Linked DNA regions of Homo sapiens. The protein of the gene in region 1 interacts with the protein of each later gene in a biochemical or structural test. Each region holds a gene or a part of one and is shown on either strand. Other genes may lie near its edges.

Region 1 (15,726 bases):
TAAATGTTAATTCTTATTCTAATGTCTAGAAATATCTAAAAAATAAAAAAATTTTCACAACTCATTTGGCAGAGAACTGACATGAAATGATATGAGGCTCATTTTATCACACTCAGCATGAATCTTTATATATTTCACTGCAGACATATCACTATGTTTGATTTTATGGCGCTGCCCCAAACAACAGTGGGATACTACACAAAATGCAGTATATAACTTATATTCCCTTTTTAAAAAAAACAAAGGATAAAAACCTTTGGAATGCAATTTGCCCCGAATCCAGGATTTCAAGTTATATTAGTTATTGATCAGCTGCTAATTGATAGGTATTATCTTAGGTGTCTTAGTCTATTCAGGCTACTCTGACAAAATACTATAAAGTGAGTGGCTTATAAACAATGTTAACATATTTCTCACAGTTTTGAAGCTTGGGAAGTGTAAAATCAAGATGCTGGCAAATTTAGAGTCTGGTGAAGGCCTACTTCTTGATTCATAGATTGAAACTTCTTGCTGTGTTCTCGTGTGGTGGAAGAGGCAAGGAAGCTCTCTTAGGCTTCTTTTAAAAGGACACTAATCACATTCATGAAGGCTCTGCTCTCATGATTTAATCACTGTCAAAGGCCCTTAGCTCCTAATACCATAAATTTTATGATTAGGTTTCAGCTTGCAAATTTTGCAGGGACATAAATATTTACACCATAGCACTAGATGTTGTCTATATTCCATTATTTTACTGAATCATCACAGTGATCCAATCATACATTCATTTATTCAACCAATATTTTCCAGGAACCATTTAGAGTGTCTTGGTTATATTATTAACAAAACAGATTAATTTCTCCTTCCTTCTTTGAGATAGCATCTTATTTCCTTAAGTCTACATTACTACTCCTTGTTACAACTAATAAAATAACTTTTGCAGAGGTGAAAATTAGTACTACCTTAAAAGCACACTGTGGATGAACAAATATCTTGATTTTCAAAAAATTAAACTGAGGAAAAATTAACTGTATTTTAGAGGAGCAAGTGGGGTTCAGAGACATTAAAATATATTAATTAAGTTATAGTAAATGGTAAGCTGGGGTTCAAAACTTTTCAAAGGCCACACTTCCACTGTTCCATATTTATGTCTAAAGGAATAAAAAATAAAAAAGACCCCCAACAGAATAGATCTTTTTTTTCCACTCCTGTTCTTTCTCTTCCCTTCTTGTTATAGCCACCACTATCAGCTATACATAATTGAGTGTCCTGTACCACTGAACGGGATGTAGCTCAGGAGGCTCCCTTTAGATCTGTAGAACTATTACACTCCCTTTGTATCATACTTCCACTCTACTTTCTTTTCTCATAGAACTCTCTGAAGTGAGCGATATATAAGGCAGATGTTATTAATTTCCTTTTCCAAATGAAGAAGATAAGGTGGCTAGGTGAAATGAATTACGTAAGTCATAAAAGACATCATTAAGAGAACTAGATTCAGAAGCAAGGTTATAGTACTCTGAGCTCTTCCATTCGACTCTCAGGGTACTTCAGAAATTAAAGTTGACTTGGAAAATCAGGAATGTCTATTAGAAGACTCTAATATTATATATATGTTTTTTCCTCAGAAAATATATTTGTCAGGGTTTTTCCCCATGATAGCTAAGAAGATATAGCTGTGGGAAAAACATCTGCTATAAAGATTAAGGACTATGACTAAAAGATCAGCAAATTATCTTTCTTTGGGCGTATTTGGATCTGTGTTATCTTTAATCCCATGCCTATAAATGGGATCAACCAAGGTAATTGAAGCAATTTGAGGAAATATATATGGCCACAGGATCAGGGTGGAAATAATGAAAGCAGATCACTAATACTACTGTTACAGCTGAATAATATGAGCACTTTCTCAAGAAAAATCTCAGTCTAAGAGGATAAATCAGCATCTTTACTTCTCAAATACCTTTATTTTAGGAGAAAATTGTATATATACATGTTCCTTCATAGCATTAGGCTGTGAAGGAATGTGTATATATACAATGAGATTCCTTTGCTTTCCACAAGCAGTATGTCCATTCTGCAATAAGTTCTTCCTTCTAAAAAAAATTTCCTCAATCTTTCCTGTACCTTTAAACAAAAGCAATTCATATAAGACCTCTTCTATGTCATGTTAGTGCCAATGACCAGCATAAGTGACAAAGCAGCTGGAGAATTAACTAAAGCCACGGGATGGGTCCCCGTCCTGTCAAATAAAGATATTTAATGATAGAAGAATGTACTGGAACCAAAGTCAAAATAACACTAATATTTAGATCCCAAGTATGCAATAAATAAATTTGTACCTGCTAACATATCTTATGAGTACCAAGATAGCCCTTGTTTGTTTAAATGGTTTATATCATAAATGAGCAATTAATTCAAAAAGCCAAGTTAGCAGCATACTTTGAAAAAAATGATAATTTGTTATGTGTACCTTTTAACCATTTCACACATTCTCTCAAATAACCCTTATTAACAGAGTTGCCAAACATCAGCAATTATGAAACAAGATAAAATAAAAAAAAGACTTTGAAAAAGTCTACACTAAACCTTTCTGTTTAAAGAAGCTTTGGTTATATATCTGTGCCCAGGGAATATTACTTTCTATGATAAAAAACATACTGGGTCTTTCAGGTCCAATATGTAAAGTGATCTATTTTCCTTGTTAATATTCACAGTAGGAAGAAAAGCCTTCATTTGGATGGGTGATGTAGTTTTCTCTCCCAGGGCTACTGATGGATTAACTGTACAGAGAAAATAGTTGCTGAGGTAGTCTTTATCTTTATTCAAATGAATGGTTTATGGCTCTTTTTCTTTTTTATTTCATTTTGCAATGATCTGTCTTCAAGTTCAAAAATCACTGTACCTTGCTTTATGTCTGAAACTGTTTAAGAATAGATCCAAAACCAAAATTTATTTGGTAGCCTGAGATTCTTTTTCTTCATAAATAACTTTGAAAGCATTTCATTTGCAGGGATAATGGAAATAAAATTAGTGATGAATTTGTTAACTGATGGAAAAGTTCACAAAATCATATTATTTACTTCATCAAATAGAATATATATATGTGTGTATATATATGTATATATAATGTATGCATGTATATAACATTTTATTTTTTCATATTTCATTTTTTTCAGTGGAAAAAATACCTAAAATTTGCAAGTATGCTGTTATGAGGACACACTTTATATGTTTAGGCTGATATACTCAAATTTTAATTTGATTTGTTACTAGTTTAGTTGCCTGGACGATTTTTGTAACCTCTGTATGTCTCTGTTTCCTCATCTTCAAGAGAGGTTAATACACTTGTATCATGGGGTGATTTGAAGAGCAGATGGAGTAACATATAATAACTTAGCACAGTATTTGGCACATGATAAGGACTTACTGATATTATTTCTGTGTATTATGTATCAACAATTAACAAATTTGTATGTAGGAAAACTTGTTTTTAAAAGTCAAGGTTGGGCACAGTGGCTCAGGCCTGTAATCCCAGCACTCTGGGAGGCCAAGGTGGGCGGATCACCTGAGGTCAGGAGTTTGAAACCAGACTGGCCGACATGGTGAAACCCTGTCTCTACTAAAAATACAAAAAAAAAAAAAAAAAAAAAATTAGCTGGGTGTGGTGGCGCATGCCTGTGATCCCAGCTACTCGGGAGGCTGAGGCAGGAGAATTGCTTGAACCCAGGAGGCAGAGGTTGCGGTGAGCTGAGATCACACCACTGCACTCCATCCTGGGTGACAGAGCAAGACTCTGTCTCAATAAATAAATAAATAACAAATAAGAATAAAAATAAAAGTCAGTAGCTATAAATGAGTCTATCAATTTAAATGAAACCAGAGTATAAAAAGTTTATATTCTGTGGAATTCACAAATAAAAAATGTTAAAATATGTCTATTTTTCCCACCAAAGCACTTGCTGCTTTTGTGAAGAGACTCATGTATCAGTATGAAAATGGTACAGTAGAGCATCAATAATTGAGGCAGAAATAATATATCTACTCTAAATCTTCAATTCCAAGGTTTAATATATTCACCATTTAAATGTGATTCAAATGTAAGTTAGGTTTGCAAAATATGATTTCAGACTTTTTTTTGGCTAAGACTTACGATACTTTTACATTTTCTCATGTAACAATTAGATGTTTTAGTTATTTATAGCATCCATTTGGATAAAAATATTTCAAAATATTCAAACACCACGTTTTAAGAATTACAAATAAAAAAGCATGCAGTAGTAGTGGAAAATGTCAGTGGCACAGGCAAAGGTGTTAGTAGGTTGGGACACATTAGGAAAGAAGTTATTGTAGAGATACAGTAAATTCACTTTGCTAAGTTCAGGGTCCTGAGTGATTGCCACAGCACAGTATTTTCAATTCCCAAAAAAGTCCCAAATCACATACTGAAGATATTTTCACAGAAATAAATACATTATCATGTAAGAATGCATTTTTTCTTTAAAGTAAGAGATTTAGGTTTTGCTTTAATTCCTTAGAGCAGTGATGAAAAAGAAAAAAAGCTGAAGGATGCATTTTCCGATCTTTATGGCTACTATTATAAATTCCCCAGATCTGCTAACTATGACCTTCTTCTTGTCTCCATTCTTATGAATTAGTCCAGAGAATGCTGAAGAACTGGAAGATAAACAGAGGCAAAGAAGATAGATAGGGCATTAAAGAACCAATCTCCTAGGGAAGGTTTACAACTTGACCTTCTGATGCACTTAGAACAGTGTCATTAGCAGTACTAATTACTTTTTTCAAGCCATTAGATTGTTTTCCTATTCTCAAAGACTGCCATTACTTACATTTCCAAATTTTTACCTTTTCTCCTGGTTTACTTCCCATTTGGCCCCGATTGAAAAAAATCTTTATTATTTTGGTATTTAAAAATATTTGTTTCTAACATTTGTTCAATCATTTGATATGTTATTTTTTACTTATTATATAATGATATAAATACTAGTGATCCCTAAAATATTTTAATTTGAAAATAAAAGTGAACACATAGATTTCACAAAGTACATGCATCACAATTTTTTTATACTCTATTAGTTTTTAATTTTTATAGGTACATAGTGGGTATATATATTTATAGGATACATGAAATATTTTGATACAGGCATACCGTGTGTAATATTCACATCAGGGAAAATGGGGTATCATTGCCTCAAGAATTTATCATTTCTTTGTGTTATAAGCATTTCAATTATACTTTCAGTTATTTGAAAATATACAATAAATTGTTGTTGACTGTAGTCACTGTTGTGCTATCAAATACTAGATCTTCTTCATTCTATCTATCTATATTTTTGTACAGCCTCTGGTAACCATCACTTGAATCGCTATCTCTGTGAGTTCAGGTGTTTTAATTTTTAGCTCCCACAAATGAGTGAGAACATGCAAAGTCGGTCTTTTTTGTGCTCAGCTTATTTCACTTAAGGTAATGACCTCCAGTTCCTTCATGTTGTTGCAAATGACAGGATCTTATTCTCTTTTATGGCTGAATATTACTCCATTGTGTATATGTGCCATTATTTTCTTTATCCATTACACTGATAGTTTATTTTTTAAAATAATTTCTGATGCTGCTTTTTCATACTTATTACTTTTTCCTCAGAAAAGTCCCATTGGATTTCACAATTTCACAATGCAATAAGAAGCCTATCTGATAGTGAGTAGCCTTTAAATTGTTGTTGTTATTATTTTATTGAGTCCTCTTTGTATTTACAAAGATTAAGGAGTTTCTAACCGTATCTACACTTGTAATAAATGTTATTCTTAGTCTTCACACTTGTAAAGGATAATGGTGATGAATGCAGCGGCAGAGGCTGCACGTTCCCACCCAGCACTCTCACTGAAGACTGCCTAATCAGCACTGGCTGCTGGTACTTTTCTCTGCAAGCTTAGTCTCTTCCAGGAATGACAGGTGGTAGGTAATCCTGGGAACTCAAGAGCCTCCTTGAAGCTTGGACTGATTAGAGCACAAACCATGAGCTGTTGAAATCTGGTCCCTGAACAGGAGAGTTTTTGACATGAAGCTGCTCTAGATTGCTGTAGGGCTGGGTCTCAGATCTGGTGTATCTGCCTGTTTCCATGAAAAGAGCGGAATCTTCAAAAATACTCAGGCTGTTTGTCTATTCCTCTAATAAAACTTCTATTGATGTTATATAGAATCTTGAGCAAAAGATTTGGCATCGCACCTTTTATGAGTTTCAATAAACCTTGTGATTTAAATAGTTTCATCATTGATGACAGTCTTTGGGTGAGGCCACAAGAGAGTCGCTTCTCGAGTGTCCATTAGTATATGGTGGGAAGACAGGAGGTCAATACTAAGGCTAGGAGTGAATTGCTACTGGTGCCTTCTTGCCTCAGACCAGCGGTCTTTTCGGTGTTCATGTCATAGATTGTTGAGGTCCCCTCGTTGTTTAATGTTTTGCCTCAGACTCCCGCCTGTAAACAGTACACATCTTTCTCCCTCACTTTAGCTGCTCATCATTTAAGCTGTCATTGGTCAGACATCCTAAACTTTCTCATTGTGACTAGGGCTCTGAGGGTTCCAGGGGTTCTAATTATTATCGTGGCTGCAGTGTAGGTGTCCATCACCGAGATGGGGCACCTGAGCTACTGAGCAGCCAGAAAAAAACTTTCTCCTTATCCTTGGCATCTGCCATCAGTTTAAGTACTGATTTAGGAATCTTTACGGCAAAGAAGAGGCTCTTCATCCCCGGCCCCATCCCCACCGCGCCCACCCGGCCCACATACACCCTCGGAGCCTGCTTTCCGCAGACTCCCCTATGTCCTGTCCTTGACTCCAGTTAACCTGGAGATGCTAGTTCTGGGAACTCCTAGAGGCTCTGTTGCCTCCTCCGCCTGCTCTGCGTTCCCCGCGTGAGCGCTGGATTATTCCAGTCTTTGAGCATGGCAGATTTCCACTGGATGACATCATGGGAGCCCAGTGAATGCCGGCTCAGAGAGGGGGACGGAGAAGGGGAGGGGGAGCAGAGGAGGGGAGAGGACTGGGGAGCCGAGCCAGAGCCGGGCTGCCTGCCACCCGGCTGCTCGTCCGCTAGCTGGGGAGGAGCGCTCCACCCGCAACTGACAAAGGATGGGAGAATGCCCGCGCCCCGGGATGCCGGCCGCACGCAGCCTGGCGGCCGCCTGAGCTACTTCACCCTCCGCCGGTAAGTGACTGCAAACATCATTCATTCAATCAGCCTCACTGGGAGCCCCTTCTCTCCGGCTGGTAGTCCTGGGCGGCTTGTCCCTGATCCCGAGCGGGGCTTGGCACAGCATCAGCCCTGGAGGGCAGGCAGCAGGTGCCTTTGCCTGGTGGGTCCACTGGGGAGCGTGGCTGGGGTTCGCGGCGGGTGCTGCCACCCAACCTGCGGGCGGCGGGCTCGCCCAGTAGGCGCCTCTCTGGTGAGAGGAGGCGGCTCCAGCCCGCAGCCTGGGGTAGTTGCTACTATTGGCCCCCAGCGCCCGCTCTGCGCGCGCGCCGTTTCTGGCGGATCCCCAGTGCGCGGCGCGCTGTTTACACCGGCGTGGTACTAGTCACGGAGCCGCACCCCTCGGAAAGCGCGGAGTCGATGACAGCCACTTCACAGGCTCACGCGCTCCTAGTGTGGGCTTGAAGGGGACGGGGACCGATTACCAAAGGAGAGCGCTGAGTACGGAAGACACAGGGCAGCCTTTGTCTTGGGTTTAGCGCTGATGCGCTCAACCCTGAGTCGGGTTCACTGCAACTGTTGTGTCCGATTTCGGTTCCCTGCAACCGCCCTCCTGGGCGAGAGATGTCATTGTGTTCCTGCGGCCAGCGGGACTGAGAGCTGGGACTTAAGACGCCAGGAGGGTCCTGCGCTCACGGGTGAGTGTCGCAGTTATCCAGGTGCTGAGGGAGTTTCTGGAGCTCCAGGAAGTGGAGTGACCAGTCGAGGCAGAGAGACGCCCAAGTTTTATCCCCAAATGGTGTGAGGGAAATGGCAAAGTTAAGGGAGACTCACTCTCGCTCTTTTCTCTGGTTTCTGAAGCGCTGATTTTGGAGATTTGTGACAGGTGAATGGAATCAGAGGCATGGCCAATATGTAGTTAGAGAGCCTCACGTTTTCCTGGCAATTCTTATTGTTATTCAGTAGTTCCAGAAAAGATTTGCTTGCTAAACATTTTTGAGATCAAAATGTTTTCTATTATAGAGCTCTGTGGGTTTGACGAAAAAAGATTCTGAACCTGCTCAGGTACCTTAGTTTAGAGTTGTCTCGCCTATAAGTGCTATATAGCCAACATGCCAACACCCAACCCCCTGGCTTTTTGCTTGGCGGACACAGGTTTTATTGATGAATTCCTTGTTTAGGAGGTTCAATTTTCAGATCACAAGGAAGCGGTGGTACCTATCAGAACATCTGTTTCTAATGTCAATGTGTTTACAAAAGGAATATCTCGTGAAAAAGATGGAAAGAAGTGAAAGTTTGCTACTTTGGGGGTTCAGTGACTTTTTCTGTTTTCATCCACTACAATCGAAAATATTTAAACTTTAAATAGTAATTTTGTATGTATGAATTTAATGTATATTAAATGTAAATAATCCTTGAACATTAAGGAGATTCTTGGTATACCAGTTTGGTATCCCAGCATCTAACATAATGCTATGGTATAAGAAAGCAACAATCACAATAATAATTCAAAGGGTTATTTTATTTTTCTTGAAAGAGGCTAATTTTTCTTCAGATGATTTTTTTTCTTTAAAGATAGATGATTCTAATGAAGCTTTTCTGAAACAGGATTGAAATAATTTTTCTTAGTGATTGCTCTTTTGATAAAGTTTGAGTCTTTTCAGAACAGATTTGATAGAAAATTATTGGAATAATCAATGTGGTGGAAGTTAAAAAGAAACTGGGTGAGATAATACAGGGAGGCTTTACTAAATATGAATGGTGGGACTATCAGAAGGTGCTGTGTCAGTTTTGATTTTGGAAAAGCTCATTGTAGCTTTTACATGCGTATCTCTACTGGGAAGTGCATAATTATATGTCTGATTATGTCACGCTATGTTGAGAGACCAATGTTATGAGCAAAGAGCTTGTTTTAATCCAGGACTTATGGGGTTGTCAGCAACGTTTTCTTCTGTGATACAGTTTTTTTTATTTCATTGTTTCTTGACTAATTGTCACAATAGGCTCCACCTGTTTTATCTGAAGTCGTCTTTCTAACTTTGTTGTACTATGTTTTTATGATAATGGGGTTTTACTTTAAGGTTCTTAGAGAACCTGTTGCTCATGTTGACTACTTTCCTCAAGTATTGTAATAGCAAAAACTCTTTTTGAAATAGACTTATGAACGTACGAGCTTCTGACGTGCTTACATGATGGGGTGTACACTATATAAAAATCTACATTTACATACAATATGTGTATAACTCTGATCAGATAATCAGCTAGCAATGATCAACAGGAGGTACTGTGGTGTTTGGCTCATGGTTTTTGGCATATGATATTACCTTTAGCGATAAGATGTTTTACCTCCTTAACATGGTAAATAAAAATGTATATTGAGAAGAACAGATTACATTTTATGTATGAAATCTTTAATTTTATTTCAAAAATATTTTATCCAAGAAGGTCAAAAGTACATAGATTCTTCACATTCCACTAGAATACTGAGAAAATTTCTCAGAAAGTATAAGCATATTATAAATAGATATAATTTGACTTATTTGATAGCTAGTACAATATTATTTTTAAAACCACATGGAGTAAAATAGTGTCCTTGAACTAGAGAGTATTCTCATAATGTTCTTTAATGTATTTCACACATACTTTGCCTATTTTGTTGCACAAGGGCTCTTAACTGGGCAAGGTGAGAAAAAGGAGGAAGTTGCATTATAGGGCAAAAATAAAGCCATAGCACAAAGCCCAGGGCAGGCAATAGTGATGTTCCAAGGTCACCGAAAAACATGATGTCAGGACACTGGGAAGTATCCATGGAAAGATCCTGTATGAAGAATAAGTTTATGCTGTTTGACGACCTCTTGCTTTCATTGTTCCAGTTGTGTGATTTAACAGATACTTTAGGACCTCTATGATAGAGCGAAACGTCCTTTACCCACCTTGAGGCAAAATTGTGTCTTAAACTCAATGAAGAGGTTGTCTTCTGGGCTTTTTCATGGTGTAATTCAAATTCTAGCTTAAGGATGTTTTATGGATCACAAAACATTGTAGCTTTCACTTTCCTGTAGGCCTTTGATAGGGAAATTGGTCAGTAAAACCTTGGCTGAAAGGTTTTTGCATCCTAACTTTTTCTGGAAATACAACAGTGAAAGTCAACGGTTATAGTGTTGCTGAAAATATTTAGGAGTGTGATGATCTAATATTTAGAGGGTTAAAATAATGCTGTTAATGTAGCTTTAAAAATAAAATAAAAATATTTGAGACAAATTCTCTGAAGCCACGATTATCCCTTTGCTATATATTGGGTTCATTTTGCAATTTATGACTCCCCTATGATACTATTAATTCATTTCTACCTCCTAGTGTTTCAGTGATGAACAGTGGTAGGAAATATGTGTTCTACTTTTGACTTTGTCATGTACTTGAGGACAAGGGTCGGAGTCTGTAAACATTAGTTTCATTTTACATAAAATAAAGATGATAATATCTGCCTTGCCTTTCTCATGGGGGACAGTGCATAGCAAATGAACTAGTGTACAAAAATGATTTGGAAAATTCAGGAGGAACTGTGACAAATATTATATATTAGTGAACTTAATCACTTTAAATTTCTAATTAGTTTCAGTTAAAGAAGTAAATTGATAGAGGTGAACCTAATGTGTGAATTCTATTTTATTAGGTTGGTGCAAAAGTAATTGTGGTTTTAGAATATCTGGTATGTTAAATTTGTGGCATTCTTGTCAATGCACTTATAATTTATTCATAAAAATTATGAAGTAAGTGGTTATGTATTTTTATTGCAAGTGTGCTGGCAACAAATTCACTCAGTTTTTGTATGTCTGAAAATATTTTTAAATAGATGTAATTTTTAAAGCTAAGTATAGCATTTTTGTTTGGCAGTTTTTTTTTTTTCAACATGTTGTTATTTTTATTTATTTATTTTTGAGACAGAGCCTCACTCTGTCACCCAGGTGGAATGCAGTGGCGCAATCACTGCTTACTGAAACCTCTGCCTCAAGTGGTTCTCGTCCCTCAGCCTCCTGACTAGCACCATGCCTGGCTAATTTTTGTATTTTTAGCATAGATGGGGTTTCACCATCTATGCTAAAACTCCTGGACTCAAGCAATCTGCCTGCCTCAGCCTCCCAAAGTGCTGAGATTACAGGCATAAGCCACTGTGCCCGGCCAACATTTGTTATTCTTTTGACTTCTCACTTCCATCAAACCTGTCAGTCATATTGTTGCTATGAGGGTAAATGTGTCTTTGTCTCTGGGTGATTTTATGATTTTTCATTTGCCATTATTTTCTTTAGTTTTCTATATATTGCTAGGTATAAGTTTTTTGGATTTATCCTCCAAGTTTGCAGAGCTTCTTGAATTTGTGGATTGTTATCTTTCATCAGGTGAAATTCATTGGTGAATTCTTGACTATTATCTTCTCATAGATAGCTCTACTTCATTGTGTCTGTTTTCCTGAGATCTGAGTTACATGTTTAATAGATGGTTTCACTGTACCCAACATGCTCCCTGTACTTGTTTTACTATTTTCTACTTTTTTTTTCTCTCTGTGCTTGTTTGAGTATTCTTTTGACCTTCTCTTCAGTTTACTAACCTTCTACACCATGCCTGTTATACTGCTCATCCACAGGTTATTACTGTAATTATTGTATTTTTTTAAATTTCCAAGTGTACATTTGATTTTTTCTATAGATTCCAATTTATCTGTTTTCTCCATCTTTTCTTCTATGACTTGGAGCATATTAATCAAACTTATTCTAAGGTTTTAGTCTGCTAATGTCAGCTGTATTGCCGTGAGCCTCTTTTCAGCATATCTTTACTCTTAATTTTAGTTATTGTATATAAAAATTATAAAGACTCAGCCAGGTGCAGTGGCTCATGCCTGTAATCCCAGCACTTTGGGAGGCCTAGGCAGGTGGATCACCTGAGGTCAGGAGTTCGAGACCAGCCTGGCCAACATGGTGAAACCCCATCTCTACTAAAAATACAAAAAATTAGCCAGGCATGGTGGCAGGTGCCTGTAATCCCAGCTACTTGGGAGGCTGAGGCAGGAGAATCACTAGAACCTGGGAGGCAGAGGTTGCAGCAAGCCAAGATCGTGCCATTGCACTCCAGCCTCGGTGACAGAGTGAGACTCTGTCTCAAAAAACAAAAAACAAACTTATAAAGGCTCCAGATGATCTATACATCCCCAAAGAAGTATCAACATTTCCTCTGCTAGACAGATACGGTGGGATGGTAGCCCATAGTTGTAATCCACCCAGTGACTGAGCTGACTCACAAGTTGTTAGACTTCTGGGCTCCCAGATGCCAAGGCGTAGCCACCGCACCCAGCCCAGATGTCTTGAACTTCTACTGGTGCATTCACAGGCCCTCAACACAAGCCAGGACAAGACTCCTGAGAATCCGCTCTTCTTTCCAGAAGCTTCCTTCTCAGTGTCTTAGCCTCCACTCATATGTGTAACTTCAGGCTTTAGCAAATCTCATGTAGGTAAAATCAAGTATGTGTCAAGCTGAGCGCTACACCTTTTACTTCTCACTGAGCTCTTGGCCCCTCATAGCTAATTTTGTCTCTCCAGTCCCTCAAGACTGCCAAAATCTCTGCTAGATTCTTTGTCTCACATCAGTGGTCCTCTGCTCAGGCAAAGCCCGTATTCTTAGTCTCTCACTGTCTTTCCAGATTGGCAATTGCCCCCACTCTTCATCCCGGGGAAAAAACATATTGTGAAAAGTCACATTACCTCCTTGGTACTTCTTCCATCTGTAATCTTGAAGCTTCTAGTCTTGACCTCTTCTGAAACTCTCCACCAGGTTTTATCAGAATACTGTCCTTATATCTGGCTTTTCTAGTTATTGTTGACCAAAACCATCAGCTGAAATGTGTCATTATTTTTAACTGATAATAAACATAGATGTACAGTGATCAAAGATCATTTCTTGATGGTAAAACTGGAGTTAGTAGTCCCATCCCACAGCCTCCTACGCAATACAGCTAACTCCAAACGTATTTTTAGAAGTGGTATAAAACGAAGGCAGGTTCTATCAAACAGCCATTAATATACTATGTGCCATTTTATATTGAGACTGTTTGTCTGTTTTTTAAATTTTGAGGTAAATCTTTGTGACAGTGAAGACCAGTAATTCAAATAGCCAATAGATTAAAGTTATTGGTAACTAAACATAATAAATTGGTAAAACTTTTGTTTCTTTTAGGACTAATACACACCCAAAAATACAGACACAGACACATGTGTGTATGTGTGTGTGTGTGTGTGTGTGTGCATAAAAAGTAAGGCTCCTTTCTGAACACAAGAACTCCATGGTTAACGAATCATTCTAACTTACAAATAAGCGCTACATTTATGGAGTGAAAAATGTGTGAAGTCTGGAGTCTCCCTCTTCTTAGAAACAACTGTCCTATTTTTCCAACTGTTGGCTCTGAAAAGCAACTGATACAGACTGATTTCTTGTGAAATACATACAATAGTGTTAACAAGCTAGTACTATGTTTATCTCTTTTCTTATTGGTATATGGATAAAACTCAGAACGTATTTCTAGACCAATTCACGGAAATATAGTTAATTCAGGTTATACCTGAAGTAGATTGTTAGAGATATATGATTTAAATTAACTGTGCTTTTATGGATTGACCTAGAATTTTTGTTAAGTCTGCCTGGTGACGGATGGATTGAACTATTACATGTAATGTTATTTTTGAGTGACTTGTATGTTGCAGGTAACATATTCCAGATAACATATTCCAGAAATCACTGACTATTTGGGACACAATGATTGGAAGTCGGAGAATGCCTGGAATAGATTCTTGTGCCTGCCTTCAATTCAGTGTCCTGAGGCACATCAGGAGATAAATGGAAGCTTGGTGAGAGTGATAAATTAGGTACTGACATTGAGGCTCATTGGGGCTGACTGTGGTGAGCAATGATCTGATTCTCATGAAGTATATCACATGCTTTTTGGACCCTGCCGGATGTCCTGTCAATCTCACATCTGTTTCTGGCTCTGGCTCGGGCAATCATTGTAGGCAGCCTTTGACTCAGTTGTGCTATTTCCCATCTCAAGCTTGCGCTGAGTATCTTTCACTTTCTTTTCTGTGACTTTACTAGCATGTCTTATCTTTCCCCCTGCTTCTGACCGTGGTCCATGCAGCCTGGAAGTGAGGAGGAGCTAACACCACCATGGAGCCTCGCAGTCAGTGGGAATGGGTGGATAGTTCCGAGACGCACTCTGCAGCTCCTCATAAGGTCCAAGTGAGAAGGAGCCTCAACCGGCCATGGAAGTGACCCAACTGCATGCACCTGTATTAGCCTTTACTCTCTCCCTGGTTCACTTTACCCGGTGCCTCACTCCTACTCTCCGGGATCACCTTGTATTATTTGCACATAATTTTTTAGTTCAGACTCTGCTTTTGAAGAGAGCCTGGCCTAAGATTTATGACTTTCCTTCTCTAGAGAAAAATGAATAAGAGAAAGAAAAGCAGGACTAAATCATAAGCTACATCCATTACAATGAGAGAAAAAAAGAAAGAAGATAAAACATGTATTTTCAGAGATACTTTCTTTACAAATCTGTCATCTTTCAGATCACCAAGTGAGACCATTTAAATAATTTTTCTAGTAACTGTGAGGTCATCTGTTGACATAATGATTAATTTGCATCTCTTCCTTCTTTTTTACTATACTTTAATATGTAGTTATTGGCAGTCTACTCTATGCTCAACACTCAGCTAGGTCCTGGTAATGTAATGATGAGTGAAAGATGTGGCATGATTCCTGCCTCTTTGGAGCTTTTTATTTCTGTGAAATTAATTAAATAATCACACAAGCCAGTGCACATACGCAAAAGTGAGTATAATGAAGGCCAGATGCACAGTAATGGGGAAGCCTATTAGAGGGGAGTTTGACTCAGCCAGGGAGGTCTGGGGAAGCCTCCTTGAGGAGGTGACATTTTACCTGACATCTGAAGGAAGGGTTAATGAGGTGGAGAAAAAAGATAAAAATTTTCTAACAGAGGGAGAAATGAAGTGTGCTCAAGGTCCTACTGTTGGGGGAAGTTTGAAAGACTCACAGTCAGAGGGAGTGTGATGTAGGCTGAAGAGAGGTACTAAACATAAGGGACTGTCACAAAATATTTGCCATAGTAAGGAATTAATTGTACATGTGTGTGTGCATGTGTATGTGCATGTAGTAGGGGAGCAGTAAAAAGGTGCTAACAAATACAGACCATCTATTTGCAAAAAAGAAATGTATGAATCTGGGAAGAATGTTGTATCGAATATGCAGCCTAGCAAATATTAAGAGTTATGAACATTTGAATCAAATAAAAGTTGTAGGAGTTATCATTTAAAGTTAGAGAACTTCTAAAGAAATAGAGTTGAAAGAAAGGAGAATGAACTATTTATTTATTTATTACTCAATGTATTTGTTCCAGCTCATGGTGATGATACCTTAAGGACTACCTACAAGGCTTTTAAGTTCCATATAACTAAGTAGTTTTTACATAGTT
Region 2 (15,913 bases), on another chromosome or scaffold:
ATTCTTCACTTAGTTCTCGAGCCTTGGTTTTCAGCTCCATCAGCTCCTTTAAGCACTTCCCTGTATTGGTTATTCTAGTTATACATTCTTCTAAATTTTTTTCAAAGTTTTCAACTTCTTTGCCTTTGGTTTGAATGTCCTCCCATAGCTCAGAGTAATTTGACCGTCTGAAGCCTTTTTCTCTCAGCTCGTCAAAGTCATTCTCCATCCAGCTTTGTTCCGTTGCTGGTGAGGAACTGCGTTCCTTTGGAGGAGGAGAGGCGCTCTGCATTTTAGAGTTTCCAGTTTTTCTGTTCTGTTTTTTCCCCATCTTTGTGGTTTTATCTACTTTTGGTCTTTGATGATGGTGATGTACAGATGGGTTTTCGGTGTGGATGTCCTTTCTGTTTGTTAGTTTTCCTTCTAACAGACAGGACCCTCAGCTGCAGGTCTGTTGGAATACCCTGCCGTGTGAGGTGTCAGTGTGCCCCTGCTGGGGGGTGCCTCCCAGTTAGGCTGCTCGGGGGTCAGGGGTCAGGGACCCACTTGAGAAGGCAGTCTGCCGGTTCTCAGATCTCCAGCTGCGTGCTGGGAGAACCACTGCTCTCTTCAAAGCTGTCAGAGAGGGACACTTAAGTCTGCAGAGGTTACTGCTGTCTTTTTGTCTGTGCCCTGCCCCCAGAGGTGGAGCCTACAGAGACAGGCAGGCCTCCTTGAGCTATGGTGGGCTCCACCCAGTTGGAGCTTCCTGGCTGCTTTGTTTACCTAAGCAAGCCTGGGCAATGGCGGGCGCCCCTCCCCCAGCCTCGCTGCCGCCTTGCATTTGATCTCAGACTGCTGTGCTAGCAGTCAGCGAGATTCCGTGGGCGTAGGACCCTCCGAGCCAGGTGTGGGATATAATCTCGTGGTTCGCCGTTTTTTAAGCCGGTCTGAAAAGCGCAATATTCGGGTGGGAGTGACCCGATTTTCCAGGTGCGTCTGTCACCCCTTTCTTTGACTCAGAAAGGGAACTCCCTGACCCCTTGCACTTCCCAAGTGAGGCAATGCCTCGCCCTGCTTCGGCTTGCGCACAGTGCACGCACCCACTGGCCTGCGCCCACTGTCTGGCACTCCCTAGTGAGATAAACCCGGTACCTCGGATGGAAATGCAGAAATCACCCGTCTTCTGCGTCGCTCACGCTGGGAGCTGTAGACCGGAGCTGTTCCTATTCGGCCATCTTGGCTCCTCCCACCTATTTCTTTTTCTTACCCAATTGTTTGGCTAGGGCATCCAGCACTGTGTTGAATAGAAGTGATGAAGTAGGCAGACTTACCTTGTTCCTCATCAAGGAAAAGCTTTCTGTTTTTCACCATTAAGTGTGATGCTAGCAGTGGGATTTTCACATATCCCCTTTATTATGTTGAGGTAAATTCCTTCTTTCCTTCTATTCCTAGTTTGTTGAGGGTTTTATGATGAAAGAGTGTTAAATTTTACCAAGTATTTTTTCTGTGTCTATTGAGATGACCATATGATTTTAATGATGTACCATACTAATTTTCATATGTTGAATCATCTTTGCATTCCAGGGATAAATCCCACTTGGTCATAGAGTATAATCCTTTTAATGTACTATAGAATTTGGTTTGCTAGTATTTTATTGCAGATTTTTGCATCAGGGATATTGGCCTGTAGTTTTCTTTTCTTGTAGTGTCTTTTTCTGGCTTTGCTGTCAGGTTAACACTGGCCTTGTAAAATGAGTTTGGAAGTGTTCTATCCTCTTCAAATTTTTGGAAGAGTTTGAGAAGGATTAGTGTTAATTCTTCTTTAAATGTTTGATAGAATTCACCAGTGAAGTCATCTGGTCTTGAGCTTTTCTTTAATGGGAAGCTTTTGATTGATGATTCAATCTGATTACTAGTTACAGGTCTGTTCAGATTATCTATTTCTTTATGATTCAGCTTTGGTAGGTTCTGTTTCTAGGAATGTGTCCATTTCTTTTAGGTTATCCAATTTGTTGGAACGTAAGTGTTCACAGCAGTCTCTTACAATATTTTTTTAATTTCTGTGGCATCAATTGCAATGTCTCCTGTTTCATTTTTCATCTTATCTGAGTCTTCTCTTTTTTTTTATAGAGACAGGGTCTTGCTACGTTGCCCAGGCTGGTCTTGGACACCTGGCCTCAAGTGATCCTCCTACCTTGGGCTCCCAAAGTGCTGGGATTACAGGCATAAGCCACCATTACGCTTTAATCATTATTTCCTTTCTCTGCTAACTTTGGGCTTAGCTTGTTCTTCTTTTTTTAGTTATTTAACATGTAGGGTTAGATTTTTTATTTGAGATATTTTTAATATGTTTATTGTTATCAACTTCCCTCTTAGTATTGCATTTGCTGCATTCCATAAAGTTTGGTATGTTATTTTCTTTGTTTCTAGATATTTTCTAATTTCCCATTTGTTCAAGAGTATGTTGTTGCATTTCCACATATTTGTGAATTTTCCAATTTTCCTTCTAATATTGATTTCTGGTTTCATTCCATTGTGATTGGAAAAGGTACTTGGTATTATTTCAATCTTAAATGTGATAGGACTTGTTTTGTGATCCAGCATGTGATCTATTAAAAAAAAATGTTCTGTGTGTTCTTGGGAAAAATGTGAATTCTTCTGCTATTAGGTAGAATGTTCTGTGTATGTTTATCAGGTCCATTTGGTCTATAGTGTCGATCAAGCCCCTTGTTAACTAATTGATCTTTTGTCTAGATGTTCTAACCTTTATTGGAACTAGGGTATTAAAATCCTCTATTATTATCATGTTGCTGTCTATTTCTCCCTTCAGTTCTGCCAATGTTTGCTTCATATACTTAGGTGTTCTGATGTTGGTGCATATAAATTTATCATTGTTATATCTTTCTGGTGAATTGAACCTTTTATCATTATATGATGTCTTTCTTTGTTTCTTTTGACAATTTTTGATTTAAAGTCTGTTATGGTCTGAATGTCCCCAAAAATTCATGGGTTGAAACTTAATCCCCATTGTGGTGGTTTTAAGAGGTGGAGCCTCTTGGGACGTGATTAAATAATGAAATATCTGCCTTCATGGATGGATTATAGCCTCATCAAATGCCTAGACAGAACTAGCTTAGGCCCTTTTTTCTCTTCTACTCTTCCACCATGTGAGGACACAGCAATTCATCTCTTTTTGTCCTTCTTCCACCATGTGAGGTTACAGCAAGAAAGCCTTCACAAGACTTGAATGCCAGAACCTTTGACTTCCCAATCTCCATAGCTGTAAGAAATCAATTTCTGTTATTTATAAATTACCCAGTTTCAGATATTTTACTACAGTTGCACAAACAGACGAAGATAAAGTCTATTTTATCTTTTGTAGGTATGGCTACTCCTGCCCTCTTTTGGTTATCATTCGCATGGAATATTTTTCCATCCTTATACTTTCAGCCTATGTGTGTTCTTAAATCTAAAGTGAATCTTGTAGACAGTGCATAGTTGGATCTTATTTTTTTAAAACTCATTCAACTGTGCTATGTCATTTGGGCAGCTTAGTCCATTTATATTTAAAGTAATTATTGATAGAAAAGGGGTTACTATCAACATTTTGAAATTTGTTTTTTGTGTTGTAGCTATTCTGTTGCTCTTTTTATCTCTTGCTATCTTCCTTTGTGTTTCATGGATTTTTTATGGTGACATGATTTTATACCTTTCTTACTTTCTTTTGTGGAAATTCCATAGGTATTTTCTTTGTGCTCACTGTGGGACTTACATAAAACAGCTTATAGATATAACTATCTTTTTAAAGCCGATAAAACTTAAATTCAGCTTCATATAAAAACTTTGCTTTTACTTCCCCCCCCCCACAGTTATGGATGTCACAAATTATATTTTTAATAATGTACAGCCATTAATATATTTTTATAATTATAATTACTTCTATGCTTTTGTTTTTTTTAACTTTTATACCAGAATTAAGTGATTTACACAATACTGTTACACTATTACAGTATTCTGTACCTGTCTATATATCTATCTTTACCAGTTAGCTTTATACTTTCATGTTTTTGTATTGCTGTTTAGTATCTTTCCATTTCAACTTCAAGGACTCTCTTTAGCATTTCTTGAAAGGCAACTCTAGTGATGATCTTATTCTGCTTTTGTTTGTTTAGGAAAGTCTTTATTTCTCATTTTTGAAGGCTAGTTTTGCCAGAGAGAGTATTCTTGGTTGGCTGGTTCTTTTCTTTCAGCACTTTTAATACCTCATCCCATTCCCTTTTGTCCTTCAAAGTTTCTGCTAAGAAATCCATTGCTAATCTTATAGGAGTGTCCTTGTATGTAATGAACTGCTTTTCTCTTGTTGCTTTCAAAATTCTCTTTTTGGCTTTCGACAATTTGATTATAATGTGCTTCAGTGTCTATTTGTTTGGGTTCATCTTATTTAGGCCTATTGGGCTTCTTGGATCTGTAGTCCATTTTCTCCCTCAGATTTGAGAAGTTTTCAGCCATTATTTCTTTAAATGAGCTCTCCAACCCTTCTCTTTCTTGGACTGCTCTAATAGATATATTGGTACATTTGATGGTGTCCAATAAGTCTCTCAGGCTTTCTTTACTTATTTTCTTTGTTGCTATTTTTATTGTTCCTTTTTGCTCCTCTGGATAATTTCAAATGACTTGTAATTGAATTGCTGATTATTTCTTCTGCTTGATCAAGTCTGTAGTTGAACCCCTCTAGTGAATGTTTTAGTTCAGTTAAAATTGCATTCTTTGGCTCCAAAATTTCTATTTGGTTCCTTTTAATATTTTCTATCCTTATTGAATTTCTCATTGGTTCATGCATCACTTTCCTGAACTCATTGAGCATCAATATGATGGTTATTTAGAATTTTTTGTCAGATAATTCATATACCTCTGTTTCTTTAGGATCTGTTTCTGGAGACTTATTTTGTTTCTTTGACTTGACCATTTCCCGTTTCTTCATATTTCTTAGAACTTTGTGTTGGTATCTGCATATTAAAAAACAAAACACACAAACAAACAACAACAACAACAACAAACCAGCCACTTCTTCCAGTCTTTACCAGCCGGCTTTGTACTGGGAAAGACCTTCATAATCTTTAGCCTGGCTAAAGATTCTGGGGACCTCTCAAACATTTTCTGTGGATACGTTTTCTCTGGGCTTATGCACGTAGATTCCTAAGTAGAGAGATTTTCTGGCTTCTCTTTTTTAAGAGTTCATTATCTCTTGCTCCATCTGTTGTCTATCTTCTATAGTGTGTGTCCTCCAAAGTAGCAGCACACTGTCCAGCTCTTTTTTTTTGATCTTGGCAGCCCCTAGTCTTCTAGAGTATGTTAGACCTTCTCTGCCTTAAGTGGGGCTACATGGAAACCAGTCCCTTTGGCAGCCCTTTGAAAAGCCAGAATTCTGGACACATGTTCTATTTTTCTCTTGCCCTCCTGAAGAAGAGGGCACTGAGCTGTATTGGCCTCTGCTGTGCCACAGGTCCTCTGAAATAGCATCATGCTATTTAGCTCTTTGGTTTCTTTTCATGGGGCCCCAGGCATCTAGAGTATGCCAGTGATTCAAGACAGACAAGAAAGAAACCAATCCTATGGGCATCTCCCCATTTCCCCAAAAAGCAGGAATATTGGTTGCATGCTTCACTCTTTTCCATGTCCCCTAGGGATAGGCCACTGAACTGTATCAGTCTGTATCTGCTGTAGCAAGAACCCTCTAGGACAGCAATATATCACCCAGTATTTTTTTGTTCTCAGTGTCCCCCAGGCATCTAGAGTATGGTGGGTCCTATAAACTCTCTAAGACAGGTAAGACAGAGGCTAGTCCCTCAGGCAGCCCCCAGGAAAGTCAGAACTTTGGTTTTTTGTTGTTGTTGTTGTTTTGAGACGGAGCGTCGCTTCTTCGCCCAGGCTGGAGTGCAATGGCGCAATCTCGGCTCACTGCAACCTCCGCCTCCCGGGTTCAAGCAATTCTCCTGCCTCGGCCTTCCAAGTAGCTGGGAGGAATGTGCCAGCATGCCTGGCTAATTTTTGTATTTTTAGTAGAGATGGGGTTTCACCATGTTGACCGGGCTGATCTCAAACTCCTGACCTCAAGTGATCCGCCTGCCTTGGCCTCCCAAAGTGCTGGGATTACAGGCATGAGCCACCGCGCCCGGCCAAAAAGTCAGAACTTTGGATATATGGTCTAGTCTTCTCATTTCTTCTTCAGGGAGAAGCCAAAAACTGGGAATTTCCTCCTAACCATGTGGCCCTGTGCCGAGAGGACAGACTATGGTGAGGGTATACCGTGAATTTTCCTACTGGCTTCAGTGCAGTTGTTTTTTTTGCTCACCTAGTGTGATGTAGCCTCTTAGCCAGCTTCTGGATTTCTCACAAAAGGAATTGGTCTGTGTATAGTTAAGTTAGTGTCTCTCTGGGAGGGAGCACAGGCTGGGGTTTCTCATTCTGCCATCTTGCTGACGTTCACTGTGGTTTTGATTTGCATTTCCCTAATGACTAGTGGTTTTGAGCACATTTTCATGTGATATTGGCCATTTCTATATCTTCCTTGAAGAAATGTCTGTTCAACTCTTTTGCCTACTTTTTAATTGTTTGTTGTTTCTTCTGCAAAGTTGTAGGAGTTTTTTTAATCATATATTCTGGATATCAATCCCTAAACATTTATTGTTTTAAGGAAATAAATTTTGAGATAATTTGTTATACAGCAATGGATAACTAATAAATACTAAAAACTCCTAAATGTATATACTAAATATATTAATTAGAAAATTGTAATATAAAAATACTAAAAGCTAAAACTGTCTGATATTAGGAAGATAATTTTACTACAATATATACCTTTTTTGTGTGTATGAGACAAGGTCTCATTATGTTGCCCAAGATGTTCTCAAACTCCTGGGTTCAAGCAATCTTCCCACCTCAGCCTCCTGAGTAGCCAGGATTACAGGTATGTGCCATTACAGCCAGCTTTCACAGTGTATACTTGATGTACTATTAATGTACTATTTAATGACTACTAAAAAGTTTATGATAACAGGAGAAAATGCTTATGCTATCTTAAATAAAAATTTGAGTGTATGCATTGATACCAAGAAATGGAAATTTGAGTGTGTACACTGCTACCAAGAAACTGAAAAATGACATCCCATACCTTTAATATTTAATATTTATAACAAATGAGGTTTACATGGATTTTTTTATCTCATCTTATTTCTGATGTGTTATGTAGTTATAAATACTATTTTATTTGCACTCCTGCTCTGCAATAATTTTGAAGATAGATAACTTATATTATTGCTGTCTTCATTTTTTAAAATTCTCAAATCCAGATGAAATTATCAAAGTTGATAAAATAATCATTGTTCTATCTTCTTATTTGAAGATTAATAATTGTGTTGATTTTGCTTCCTTGCTCTAGTTAGCAGTGATGTCATCTGCTATTTTTAAACTTCCTTGAAATAATATATGTAATCTACTTCTAATAAGTTTTTCTTATTTAGCATTTTGGTCTAAACTAATTTATAATTATTTAGCCTTATTTCTCCATGTTTAACTTGCTTTAAAGCTCAGCACTGGTGTTTTCAGCCATGGCTTCTCCATTTTAAGGCTATTTTAATTCATTTATTATTCTGGAATATATCCTTAAATAATTTATTTAGGAAGGCTGTCTTGGTGGTGGTATTTCTGTTGCAGTTGTTGTTTTCTTGCCTGCTTGGTGACATATTTCTATTGACTTGACACTTAACTGGCATCTTATCTAGGTAGATAATGCTAATTCAAAATTCTGCAGATATTGTTCTGTTGTTTTTTGCCATTTAGGGTTGAGTAAGATGCCAAGTTGTTTTTTGTTTCTCTGTAGTCATTCTGTTTTCATTTTGTTTTTAGCTTTGCCTTTGGAATTTAAAATGTTCAAAATGATTTGTCTGGATGAGAATCGATTTTCATAACTTTTGCTTTGATACACTAAACAGTTTGAGTTTCTAGATGATGCCCATTTTAATTCATACGAGGAAATATCTTCTAGTATAGTTTCTGCTTGATTAATTCTATGTTTGTCTCTTAGGGACATCTATTAATTTTATAATGCTGCCTTTTTTTCAGACTTCTGTTTCAGAATATTCGCTTTCATCAATGTAATCCTTGGCTATAGTAGGAATGAAATAATAAAAGCAGTAGCTTCTGTCTGCCCTCCTTGGTTATGCAGTCCTTACAGAACATCTCCCCATCTCCCATCCCCCCACCCCAGCTCAGTGAAACTCTCCACACTTTGGTTGTGGAAATTGGCAGGGTTAGGTGGCTACTCACTCCCAATCCACATCCACAATAAATCACTTTTTATTATCTTATCAAAATCTGTAGAATGCCTCTTTATTCTATTTTGTTGCTGCGGAGGTTTGTTTTCTCTTTCTAATTATTTTATTTTCTAGGTTTTTTGAGGGAATTTCAAGAGGGGAGATTTTTTATTCAGGCTCATCTTAACGTCATGTCTGGAACTCAAGCTACTGAATTATATATTCTTTAATACATATAGACCTACGTCAATGAGTTTAAACTGCAAGGAAAGGGTTAAATTTCTTCCTCAAGTGTGGTCAAAATCTGTAGAGAAAAGAGGAACAGCTTCTCTTAAAGAAAGTTAGCTGGGTAGGTATACAGTCATTGCCGAGGAAGGCTTGCACAGGGTGAAAGCTTTGCTTCTCTGCTGCTGTAACAGGGACTAGCACAGACACACGGATGAGTGGGGTCATTTCCAGATATTAGGTCACAGCAGAAGCAGCCAAAATGGATCCCCAGTGGTGAGTAATAATTCTTATTCTTTGCAGAGAAGTTATGAGTTGTGACTGCAGTGAAAGGCTGAGGTTGAAGATGGTGCTTTGATGTGTGTCCTTCACTTAGTTCCTAAGTGGAGAAGCTTTCTTTTTCTACAAAAGATCTTTGGCACATAAAGGCAAGAATTATTTGCAATGCCCAAAGCAGTTCATTGGTGGTAGTTATATATATTTTTAGGTGCCTAATTTTGGTTTTGTAAATCTGTTATTCAAATACTGAATGTTACAGTCATTGATTTTAGTGAAGAATCAGGAATTTTTAAAATATCTGCATAAGAATGACAAATAACAGGGAATATGTTTTTTGTCTACCAGGGTCAGTTTGGTCTGAGGGTGGAGGAATGAGATAGAGAAGGTAGAGGGAGAGAGATCAAGAAAAAGAAAGAGAAAAAAGAGGTATAAGGAGAAAATGCAAAACTCAGTTAATATGTCATAATCAGGCCATGGGAGATTCTGGGCAGGGTTGGGTAGTGGAAGGAGGTAGAGTGATTAAATTAGTTACCATGTATTGAACATGCATGATGTGCTGGGTACTTTACTAGTGCTATTTCATTGAATTTTATTCTTCACAATGACTTTTGGAAAGACATCATCATTCTTTTTGACAGATGGGGTAACTGTGGCTTAAAAAACTTGCCCAAGTTCACACTATTCATAAGGGGTAGAGCTAAAATCTTTCCTGCCCGCTTCGTGGTGCGCCAGAAGGTTTCTCCATGCTGTGGAGACTTCCTGGAAGGAGTCACACCCGCCCTTCTCTTGGGTGGTGGCAGCTGGCGCCAGTCACTATGTATTTATTTATTTTTAATTATTTATTTTTGAAACAGAGTCTCGCTCTGTCGCCAAGCTGGAGTGCAGTGGCGCAATCTCAGCTCACTGCAACCTCCGCCTCTCGGATTCAAACGATTCTCCTTCCTCAGTCTCCTGAGTAGCTGGGACTACAGGCGCCCACCACCACGCCCGGCTAATTTTTGTATTTTTGGTAGAGACGGGGTCCACCATGTTGGCCAGGATGGTCTCGATCTCTTGACCTTGTGATCTGGCCACCTCGGCCTCCCAAAGTGCTGGGATTACAGGCGTGAGCCACCGCGCACCCGGCCGTCACTATGTATTTATAATTACTGTTCTTTGAAAATCGAAGTAACTTTCATCTACCCAGTGCTTACTGGTTTGAGAAAAAGCTTTGTTGCTTTTATTTCAGAAGATTAAAATTTAATTTTCCAGTAAAGATTCCTTTTGCTCCAGTGGAATTTTGAAGCGTTATACTTGTATGAAGAAAAAAAGAATTTCAAAATTTATAATTTTTGTGGTACCATAGAGGGGATACTACTTAATTATGCTAGCACTGTCTGCAGAGGTCTAAAAAACCATAGGCTGCTGTCTATATTGAACTTGTTAAGATTCCTTTTGTTTCACAGTGCCTGAAGATTGGTCATGAACCAGTAATAGCCATTAAACAATGTCTGTTCTCATAAGAGATGAAATAAATACAAATTAAAACAACAGTGAAGTATCATTTTTTCTCTATCAAAGAGATAAATATTAAGTTTTAAAAAGCAAGCAATCAAGAACCCTCTATCTTGCTAAGAAGGGAGGATTATTTGTACCCTAGTTGCGCACTAGTGGTGATATCATCTTTCTGGACAATAATCTAGTGATACATATCAAAAGCCTTTAAAATGTATATGCCCTTTAACCAAGCAATTCACCTTTTAGGAATTTATTCTAAGATATAATAATACATGTTTGTAAAGTTTTAGTGATGGATATTTTTCTTGCTATTGTTTCTAATAAGGAAAATCTTAGAAACAATTTACGTGTTTAAAAACAAGTGATTGGATGATTATGGAACATCCATAATGGAATACCATGTAATTATTTAAAATTCCACTGTAGAACAATTCATAATGTGTTTAGTTAAAGGGGAAAAATGCAGAACGAACAGTGCTATCACTTTTATACATGATACATGTATACAAACAATATTAATCAGAAATATAGGTAGTTTGTATTTTCTACTGTGTGCTTTTCAATTTGAATCCCATCTGTAGGCAGAAAAATAAAGTTAAATATTTAAGATTTAAAAAAAACAATAGCTGGTTTTTTTCAGAGAAGTAACCATCTAGTGATGTGTGATAATTTATAAGTTGTGAGATTCCATAGTTAGGGCTTTAGCCCTTTGCATTTATCTTTCTTCATCTCTTGAATCCTCTTCAAAATACACCCACTCTACCCATAACTCATTAGATCTTGAAAGGCATGTTCTGATAGAATTTTATATTTAGAACAGGCTGCAGCACTCTTCCCTTATTTTACAGAAGTGATTGCATGGCTCTCTAGGGTGAGTTGCATATTGAGAGGGAGGACAGTGCAGTGGCTAAGTGGCCGCACATTGAAGCCAGGCTGCTGGGGTTTGAATACCAGTTCCCCAACTTCCTAGCTATGTGATTTTGGACAAGTTGCTTAACCATTGTAATTCCCAGTTTCTTGTCTGTAAAATGGGAGTATGGTAATATGTCGTAAAGTAGTTGTGAGATTTTAATGAGATAATCCATATCCTGCTAAGTACTCAGGAATTGTTAGTAGTTTTTATTACTATTACTGTTTGGATTAAGAAACAGAGGAAAAGTGATTTGTCCAAGATTATACAACCACTTAATGGCATTACTAAGAACAGAATGGAGGAAGGTTTTTTCCAGCAGAAATGTTCAGTATCCTCTGTGCCTGGCAGGACAACCCCAAGTTGTGCTTTTGGGATGGAGGAGCTGATCTAAAACAAGCAGTACCCAGGACAAGGCCAGCCTCCAGGGAGTGACTGATGACAGTGGGAAGCCAAATGGTAGAAAGGCAGGTGAAGTTAAGGAAACTGAGAGTCAACTTAGGAGCAGGAATGAAGCCTGGAGCAAAGAGCTAGTGCAAGAGAGAGCAGATGACTCAGAGCTACTGGGGCTTTTGTAGGCCACCAGCTATGGGCTTCACGGGAGGTTAATGTGGTTTAAAGTCTCAAGACCTGGGTAATTAAATAGACAAATGGGGTCTAGGTGCATGGGGGAATTTTAAGTATAGCTTTGAGAAGATGCCTAATGGGGAGTAATAATAGAGAAAGAAGCTGGGTGGGGCCAGAACAAGGAGCCCACAGTCCAGGCATCCAGCTATGATCATCCTAAAGGAACAGCCTAAGTTTGAAGAATCATAAACAAATAGAGACATGATAAAATTTACTTTAAAAAAAATCCCTTGGCAGAAGAATGAAAACTGATTTGGAGTGACAAGGAGATCATTTAGGAGACTATTGGAGTAAGCCAAGGAGAAATGGCGAGGGCATGAAACCAGGGCAGTTATGGTGGGATCAGACTGGAGAGGATGCATTTAAGAGATATTTTAGCACCAGAATTGACAGAATTTGGTTTTTGACAGATGTAGACACTGGGAGAGGAGGAGAGATCTAAGTGCATAGTGGCATCCTTCACAAAATGGAAGGTATAGGAAGCAGAGTGGGTTTGCGCCAGGCAGAGAGAAAAGACAGATGGTGAATTCCTTCTCTAACATGTTGAGTTTGAGGTGCCTGTGGAGCAGCTGGATAGAGATGTCCAAGCAGACAAGTAGATATTTAGGTGCAAGTTCAAAAAAGAGGGATGGCCTGGAATGCACATGAAGAGTCTTCTGCATAAGTATGGTTGACAGTTGAAATTCTCATTGTGGGTCAATTCAGTAGCAGAGAGGTTGGAGGATTGAGAGGAAGCCAAGGACAGAACCTGGAAAACCTTGACATCTAAGGAGGGAGATGAGGAAGAAGAATCTACAATAGATACTAAGGAGGGGCTAGAGAGACTGGAGCAGCCCAGGAGAAAAGTGGTGTCATAGAAATCAAGTGGGCCTGTAGTCCCAGCTACTTGGGAGACTGAGGCACGAGAATAGCTTGAACCCAGGAGGCAGAGGTTGCAGTGAGCTGAGATAGCACCACGGCACTCCAGCCTGGGTGACAGAGTGAGACTCCGTCTCAAAAAAAAAAAAAAAAGAAAGAAATCAAGTGGGGAGATGGATGCAAGAAAGAGGAGAATGCATTCATGGAAAGAGCATATTTACCAAGCTTTCCATGTTGAACACATGAGATGTGACATGAAAGGTAACTGTAGTGACTACATGTTAAGCGTTGAATTGTGGCTCCCTTAAAATTCATATGTTGAAATCCTAACTCCCAGGGCTTCAGGATTTGATCATATTTGGAGATAGGGTCTTTACAGAGATAATAAAATTTAAATGAGGTCATTAGGGTGGGTCCTAATCCAAGACAATTGTTGTGCTTATTGTAAGGAAGGGAAACACACAGCGGAAAAGCGGTGTGAAGACACAGGGCGAAGACGGCCATCCACATACAAGCCAGAGAGAAAGGCTCGCAACAGATTCTTTCCTCACAACCTTCAGAAAGAACCAACCCTGTGGAAACCCTAAGTTTGGACTCCTGGCTTCCAGAAAAAAAATAAATTTTTTTTGTTTAAGCCACCCCAGTTTGTGGTACTTTGTTACCACAGCCCCAGCAAACTAATACACTTGGTGAGAGTGCATACAGCCAGAGAAAGAAGCTGTGAATAAGTGCATCAGGGAGGAGGGAAAGAAACCAAAACAGGATTACATCACTTAAATTAAGAGTAGAAACATTTCACAAAGCAGAGTGTAGTCACAGGTCAAATTCTGCAGAAAGGCGAAGTAGGAGAATGACTGAAAATGTCAGTCCAGAGGCCCTCAGTGACCTTGACCTTTGCAGAACACTCCCAGTTGAGTGGAGGCAGTAGACTTTGGAGAGCTTGGAAAATGGAGGCAGCACAGATGGTCTCCTGCAGAAAGTCTGGTGATAAAATGAGACCTCCTCACTGGAGTAAACTCACCTCTGCTGTCGGTGGAAATAATCTGGAGTCAGGCCAGCCAGACCCAGAGTTCTTCCTTCCTCCATTTTAAAGGTTAAACAGAGCTGAGGTCAATGGCTCATGCCTGTAATCCCAGTGACTCAGGAGGCGGAGGTGGGAGGATGGCTTGAGGCGAGGAGTTCCGTTCAAGACCAGTCTGAGCAACATAGCGAGACTCCCATTCCTAAAAAAATTTTAATTTAAATTAAAAAAAAAGGCTAACCAAAAATAAAATCCAATACTTTATTTTTCCCACCCAAAACTAGTTTGGGAAGGATTTCTGGAAGAAAATAATTTTTGCAGTCATTTTACATGTTGGATTTTGAGTGCACATAACATACAGATTCTATTCTGTATTATCAGTTCAGAGGCAAGTTGAGATTTGAGGCTTCGCAGAGGTAAAGCCTCTGGTGAATCTGGTGAGATAAAGAAGAAAACAAGCCCAAGAGGAATTTCAGGGATCATTTATAATTTACATCAATAAACAGAATGGGAAAAAAAACCCATTAGAGTTTGGAATAGAGAAGTATTAAAACACTTTCTTAGAAAGCTTTGAGTCAAAATTAATCTTTCTGTAGTGGCAGGAATATGATAAGCCAAACAACCCTAATGTCACAGCTCTATATTATTAGGTGTCGAATCAGATTTGCACTAAAACATCAAGTAAAAATAAAAGGAATGAACATTTGGTTAAGTGAACCAATTAGTCAATACACGCCAGAAAATGGTAAAACTGGATAAACCTAAAATACTCAACTACCTAGATTAATCAAGGCCAACCTAGATTATCACCCCAATATTACAACTATTTTCAACCAACTAAACAATAAATCTTTATCAAGAGCCTGATAGTTTAAGGTACTGTGATGAATACAAATGAAATTGCTGATACTTTTTTTCAAGTCTATTTAGAAATAGAAACCCACAATTATGAAATGACAAAAACAATTAATGCAGTTAATAATTCAGTAACTTTTAAAAAGAAATAAACATGACAAAAAGTTCATTCTCACCAAATACTAAAGAAATGCCAATTCAAACACCAATGAGATATTTTCCTGTATCAGATTAGACAGTAAAACAAACAATCCAATCAGAAAAATGGGCAAAAGATATAAAAAGACATTTCCCCAAAGAAAATATACAGATGGTGAACAACCATATAAGAGAGTCAACATCATTTGCCTTTATGAAAAAATTAAACCACTACCTACCTATAAAAATGGTTAAAATAATAAAAGATAATGACAACACCAAATGATGGCAGGATGCGGAGAAACTGGATCATGCATACATTGCTTGTTGGGAATGTACAATGGTCAAGCCACTCTAGAAAACAGTTTGGCAGTTTCTTATAAAACCAAACATGCATTTAGTATATGACCCAGCAACTGCATTCTTGGGTTTTGATCCCAGAGAAATAAAAGCCTATGCTCCTGCAAAAATCAGTATATGAATATTTATACCAGCTTTATTCATAATAGTAAAAAACTGGGGAAAAAAGTCCCTCAGTGGGTGAATCGTAACACAAACTGTGTGTGCAAGATGTTACCACTGAAGGAAGCTGGGTGAAGGTACACAGGACTTCCCTGTACATTTTTTCAACTTCTTTTGAATCAATAATTATTTAAAAATGAAAAGTTTAAAAAGTAAAAAAAAAAAACAAAAACTAAAAATGTTCATCTTCACTAAATATTAAAAAAAATGCCAATTCAAACACAAGATATTCTCCTTTTACAAATTAACAATTTATATGGATTTTGGGAGGGTTGGGAGTAATCATGCTAATAAGTATGCAATAAGAGGATACTTTCGTATACTACTGATTGTGGGAATATGAATGGGGAGAACATTTCTGGAAAGCAATATGTCAACAATATCAAGAGTCTTAAAAATGGTTGTACAAGCAGACACCCATTCTGGGCACTGCCAATTTCTCCATGTCCTTAGTACATTTTTTTTCAGTTCATTCAGCATCTTTGTTCCAGGCACTGTGCTAAACATTAAAAATACACCAAAGATGAGTATGAGTAAACATGATTTCTGTTCTCAAGAATTTCAGTTTTGTGGTAAATATATCAAAGGTGATTTTTTATAAGAGTTTTTTATAACAGGGTGTGACGTTTCATAGGAGCATGAAGGTAGCTGTTTCCTATTTGTCTGTAGGCAGTATGATGTCTTAGATAAATGCCAGGGTTTTGAGCT

The links.
Region 2: the proteins of MARCHF1 (region 1) and CD86 form a complex in vitro, tested with the Homo sapiens proteins (one study listed by BioGRID).

The regions. Positions count from the first base shown.
Region 1 is NC_000004.12:164,375,349-164,391,074, reverse strand, and holds the start of MARCHF1 (E3 ubiquitin-protein ligase MARCHF1), read left to right. Parts: upstream 1-7,055; 5' UTR 7,056-7,205; exon of another isoform or gene 7,206-7,888; intron 7,889-15,726. UniProt on the Homo sapiens protein: E3 ubiquitin-protein ligase that mediates ubiquitination of TFRC, CD86, FAS and MHC class II proteins, such as HLA-DR alpha and beta, and promotes their subsequent endocytosis and sorting to lysosomes via multivesicular bodies.
Region 2 is NC_000003.12:122,046,730-122,062,642, forward strand, and holds the start of CD86 (T-lymphocyte activation antigen CD86 isoform 1 precursor), read left to right. Parts: upstream 1-8,632; 5' UTR 8,633-8,760; coding exon 8,761-8,774; intron 8,775-13,690; exon of another isoform or gene 13,691-14,926; intron 14,927-15,913. UniProt on the Homo sapiens protein: Receptor involved in the costimulatory signal essential for T-lymphocyte proliferation and interleukin-2 production, by binding CD28 or CTLA-4.